Linked DNA regions of Homo sapiens: region 1 is linked to region 2. The links come from fine-mapping of genetic effects on gene expression. A gene starts in region 2. The other region holds a variant in brackets. All regions are shown on one strand. Distances are between the middles of the regions.

Region 1 (2,917 bases), 230 kb after region 2:
CTCACTGTAACCTCAAACTCCTGGGCTCAAGTGATCCTCCTGACTCAGCCTCCCAAGTTACTGGGAATACACGCATGTACTACCACACTCAGCTGTTTTTTTAAAATTTTATTTTTGTAGAGAGAGGGTTTTACCCAGGCTAGTCTTGAACTCTTGGCTTCAAGTGAGTTCAAGATCCTGCTGCCCTGGCCTCCCAAAGTACTGGGGTAACGTGTGAGCCACCATGCCTGACCTAGTGTTTATTTTTTAATGTTGCTTTTTATGTGGCATTTGTGTTTGGCACTGGATGGAAGGAAGATAAATTCTGTGTCAATTAGGTTTATTGATGCAGATATTCAATCAATATTGACTGAATTTCTGTGTAAGAAGATTGAAGATATTGCTTTCCTGCTTTACTGCATATAGGGTTGCCAAGATTGTACCAAGATCACATTTTTTTCCTTTATACTATGATTCTATTTTTAAATTTGTGAATAAGGTGAGAGGTATGAGCCAAAGTTTTTGTTGTTGTTGTATATGGCTGTTTAGTGGTTCCAGAACAGTTTGTTCTGGAAAAGAATATAGCTTCTCCGTTAAATCGTCTTTGTATGTTTATCAAAAAAATTAATTGACCATATATTTGTGGGTCTATTTCTATATTCTTAATTTTGTTCCAAAATATCTATGCATCTATCTCTCCTTTCATGAATATCACAGTGTTTTGATTGTGGTAGCCCTTAGTACATCTTGAAATCAGGTAGTGTGAGCCCTTCAACTTTGCTCTTTTTCAAAATTGTCTTGGCTGTTGAAATTCCTTTGTCTTTCCATATAAATTTTAGAATACGGTTAAGATTTCTACAAAAATGCTAATATTGTTTTAATTGGATTGCATTGAACCTATAGATCTGTTTTGGAAGAACCGACATTTTAACAATATTGAGTCTTCTAATCCATGAACATGATTTTTTTTTTTTAGGTTTTTAGATTTTATTTAGGTTTTCTCTTTTCTCTCTTTCTTTCTTTCTTTCTGTCTGTCTGTCTTTCTTTCTTTCTTTTTCTTTCTTTTTTTTTTCTTCTGGGTCTTGCTGTCTCACCCAGGCTGGAGTGCACTGGTGTGATCATTGCTCACTGTAGCTCAACCTGCCAGGCTCAAGTCATCCACCCAACTCAGCCTCCCAAATAGCTGAGACTACAGACACACCACACGGCTGGCTAATTTTTGCATTTTTTGTAGAGATGGGGTTTCACCATATTGCCTAGGCTGGTCTCCAACCTCTGGGCTCAAGTGATCTACCCACCTTGGCTTCCCAAAGTGCTGGGATTACAGGCATGAGCCACTGCATCTGACCTATTTAGGTTTTCTTTTATTTCATCAGTGTCTTGTATTTATCACATACAGATCCCGGAGATATCTTAATAGACTTATTCCTAAGTATTTCATGATTTTTTATGATATTATAAGTAGTACTGTTTGGATTTTTTTTTTTTTTTTGAGACAGGGTCTCTGTCACCCAGGCTGGAGTGCAGTGGTGTGATCTGGTCTCACTGCA[A/G]CCTCCACCTCCCGGATTCAAGCTATTCTCCTGCCTCAACCTCCCCAGTAGCTGGGATGACAGGTGCCCCCCACCATGTCTGGCTAATTTTTATATTTTTAGTAGAGATGGGTTTTCACCATGTTGGCCAGGCTGGTCTCGAACTCCTGACCTCAGGTGATCTGCCTGCCTTGGCCTCCCAAAGTGCTGAGATTACAGGCATGAACCACCATGCCTAGCCTACTGTTTTGATTTTTAACTGGCAATTGCTAGTATATGGAAATGCAATTAATTTTTGTGTGTTAACCTTGTGTCCTCTCTTTGCTAATAATACAGTCTATGTAGACAAAATTGATTACTTCATTTCCAGCCTATAAATATTTTTTTCTTGCCTTATTGTGCTGACTAGACATAACAGAAGAAAAACAAGGTGCAACAATGAAAACAGGAAGATTGAGGGTTTGCCCTATGACTTCACTTCTTTGATGGATCTAAGAAGAGTTTTTGATTTTTCAGTTTGTTTGGGTTTTTACTTGTAAGAACAGAGTTGCTACTTTTAGGTCTGTACGTGCTAAACCAGAAACCCTAACGGTTCAGTTTATACTTTTAAAATATAACACATATTTTATTTTACTTATGTATTTTATTATATTATATTTTTTTGAGGCAAGGTCTCGCTCTGTTCCCCAGGATGAAGTGCAGTGGCATGATCATGGCTAACTGCAGCCTCGACCCCCTGGTCTCAAGTGATCCTCCCATCTCAGCCTCTTGAGTCACTTGGACTATAGACATGTTACACCATGCCTCGCTAATAGAACATGTATTTTAAAACAAAAATTATATTAACACACAAACACCATTTATTGTTTTTTATCCTGATAATTTCTTTCTCCCAAATTTTGTATTCCTTGTAGTTGAGACATTGCAACCTTTTTTTTTTTTTTTTTTTTTTTTTTTACTTTCACCAGTATTGTTTAATACATGTTGCTTCATTTCTCTGTGAACATTTGGTGTTGTCAGGGTTTTTTTTTTTTTTAAAGCTATTCTCCTAAGTGTGAAGTAGTATCTAATTGCAGTTTTAAAGCATTTCTCTGCTGAGCACTGCTACATGTACTTATTGACCATTCACACATCTACTTAAAACTTTTGCCTAAGGTTGTAAAGATGTTCTAAATTTTCTTCTGGAAGAGTTACAGTTTTAACTTACACATTTAGGTTTATCGCATATTGCTAATTAATTTTTGTGTATGATGTGAGGTAGAGATTGAGGCTCATGTTTTCATAGTTTTTTTCTGGTTGTTTCAGCTCAATCTTTTTTTTTTTTTTTTTTTTTTTTTTAGTATTTATTGATCATTCTTGGGTGTTTCTCGGAGAGGGGGATTTGGCAGGGTCATAGGACAATAGTGGAG
Region 2 (2,916 bases):
ATACAAAAATTAGCCAGACGTGATGGTGGGCGCCTGTAATCCCAGCTACTCAGGAGGCTGAGGCAGGAGAATTGCTCGAACCAGCTGACATCGCACCACTGCACTCTAGCCTGGGTGACAGAGCAAGACTCCATCTCAAAAAAATAAATAAATAAATAAAGGAAAATAATAGAAGCATGCTTATCCTTCAATGTGTATTTCCTAAAGACAAAGACATTGTCTTATATGACCATAATACAATTACCCAAATCGAAAAATTTAATATGATTACAGTATAATCTAATATACTGTCCATTTTTAAATTTTGCCAGTTGTCACAATAACGTTCTTCATAGTTATTTCTTCCTTAATCCAGGATCCCATCCAGGATCACCCATAGATTTAGTTGCCCTGTCTCTTTAGTATCCTTTAATCTGCCACAAACCCTTAGTCTTTGTCTTTTGTAACGTTAACACTTTTGAATAATTTATGGGCCCGTCATCTAGCGATGTCTACCTCAAACGCAACTCGTGCTTTTTTTGCATGAATACTACATTATGCTGCGTCCTTTTCAGGGTATTATATTAATAGGCATATGATATTGGCTCCTCCTATAACTGTGGCGTTAGTCTTGATCATTTGGTTATGATGGTGTCCACCAAATTTCTCTATTGTAAACTTTTTTTTTTTTTCTCGCTCTGTTGCCCAGGCTGGAGTGCAGTGGCAGGCTGACGGTTCGCTGCAGCCTCGAACTCGTGTGGCTCAAGCAATCCTCCCATCTCAGCCTCACGAGTAGCTAGGACCATAGGACCTAGCCACCACATTTGGCTAATTTTTTGTATTTTTTGTAGAGATGGGGTTTCTCCACGTTGCCCAGGCTGGTCTCCAACTTCTGGGCTAAAGTGATTCTCCCGCTTCAGCCTTCCAAAGTGCTGGATTACAGGCGTGAGTCAACACGCCCAGCCTTGTAAACTATTTCTTTTCATCTTTGTAAATAATACATAATTTATGGGGAGTTATTTTGAGACTATGGAAATATCATGTTCCTCATCACGTTTACCTCCTAGTTTTAGTACCTTTTGATGATTCTTGCCTAAATCAGTTATTAGAATACAATTCATATATGATAAAATTCATTAAAGTATATAGTAATTCAGTGGTTTTTGTATATTCATACGGTTGTGTAACCATCACCGCTAATTCCAGAGCATTTTTATCACCCCGAAAATGAAACCCTTCACCCATTAGCACTCATTTCCCCATTTCCCCCAGCCTCTGGCGACCACTAATCTACTTTTTATCTCTATGGATTTGCCTATTTAAGACATCCTATATAAATGCAATCATACAATATGTGGTCCTTTGTGTCTAACTTATTTCACTTAATATGTTCTCACGGTTCATTCATGTTGTAGTTCTTATTGATATTTCATACCTTTTTATTTGCCTAAATCAATCATTTCTATGATTCCTAAAAAATGGTGCTAGTCTAACTACATTATTTCCATCTACACTTACTAGGCAACATCTTTATCATCCATTGTCAGGAAGCCCTTTAAGAAAACTGCACAGTGAAGTTCATTTTAATAAATAGGGTTTCCTTGCTCTCAAGTAGTTACTAATCTTAGACAAAAGGGTCTAGGATGACCACCTTTCTTGAGGTTTACATGATCTTCCCTGACTTCCACTTGAAAGGCACCCTGTGAGTCTCTCTCCGCCTGTTATCCCACAGGCTCCTCCCCACTCCTCCAGGTACCCCTTCCCCGGCGGCTGCAGGAGGAGGAAGTGACGCACCGGAAGTGTCCCTGTTCCCCTTGCTGTGGGGGTAAGGAATCAAGCCCCCAAGATGGCGGCAGCGGCGGAGGAGCGGATGGCAGAGGAAGGAGGCGGCGGCCAAGGCGACGGCGGTTCCTCTTTGGCCTCCGGCTCTACCCAGCGACAGCCTCCACCGCCCGCGCCACAGCACCCGCAGCCGGGGTCCCAGGCGCTCCCAGCCCCCGCGCTGGCTCCGGACCAGCTGCCTCAAAACAACACGCTTGTGGCGCTGCCCATCGTAGCCATCGAGAACATCCTCAGCTTTATGTCCTACGACGAAATTAGCCAGCTCCGCCTGGTGAGGCCCCCGCAGAACTCCTGCCTCCCTCTCCCCCCGGCCGAGGTCTGGGAGATGAGAAGGGAGCGCGTTCCCCGGGAAGGGAGCCCCCCGCGAGCCCCAGCCGGCTACAGATCTGGGAGGGAGCCGCTCCCGTCCCGAACTCTCCCTTGGCGTCAGTCAGCAGGAGTGGGCTGGTTCCCGATTGCGTCCTAGCTGCGGAGCTGGGGTTACTTCCTGAGGGGACTTCGCCTTGGGGGCTCCTTGCCCCCCGCCCGGAAGCGGGCCCTCTACGGGAGGGGTAGCGGAGTTGGTCTTCCCACCTTCCGCCTGGCCCGAGAGTAGACCCGGAGAGGTCATGTCGCCTGCCTTTTGTATGCCGCTTCCAGCCCCCGGCCTGGGTTTGGGGAGAAAACTCAGAAGTAGGCAGATGATCCCAGCCAGGTTTGGTTTATCTTGCAAGAATAACGAATTGTTCCCCACCCCAACCACCCAAGTTTTCTTGTTCGAGAAGATTGAGTAGACTAAGGTGGCTCAGTGACCCCAAACCCAGGTAGAGGTTCCGAAGAATTCGAACGTGTTTACTTAGCGTTAGCCCCAGCGCCCTAATTGACCACTAAAGTAGAGCCTTGGGAAATGACCATTCCTGCTTTGCCTCATCCTAACGCTTCCCACCGTAGAGAAGCAACTTACCCCTTGACGGGTTTTTTCTCTTTTGCAATTTATTTTTAACTAGTGATTTACGCCCACCCACCTGCTTTAGGAGAGGTTTCTTTATACCTTAAAATCACAATAGGTCAGTCCATGATTTTTAAAAATAATGAATTTGCCATTGGGGTTTTACT

The links. PIP is the estimated chance that this variant, and not a neighbour inherited with it, causes the effect.
Region 1: its variant is fine-mapped to the expression of FBXO28 in tibial nerve (GTEx, PIP 0.96).

Annotation. Positions count from the first base shown.
Region 1 is chr1:224,346,388-224,349,304 of GRCh38, forward strand. No RefSeq gene overlaps it. Among named protein-coding and RNA genes, the nearest start is that of CNIH4, 9.0 kb to the right of the region's middle. The variant A/G (reference allele first, on the strand shown) is at 1,530.
Region 2 is chr1:224,112,305-224,115,220 of GRCh38, forward strand. FBXO28 (F-box protein 28) reads left to right here and starts at 1,807. Exons shown (of 5, transcript NM_015176.4): 1 at 1,807-2,092. The coding sequence starts at 1,826. It overlaps LOC105373056 (a long non-coding RNA gene), which reads right to left and starts at 1,736. Exons shown (of 3, transcript XR_007066897.1): 1 at 1,631-1,736. RefSeq lists enhancers at 1,450-1,579, 1,600-1,659, 1,800-1,869.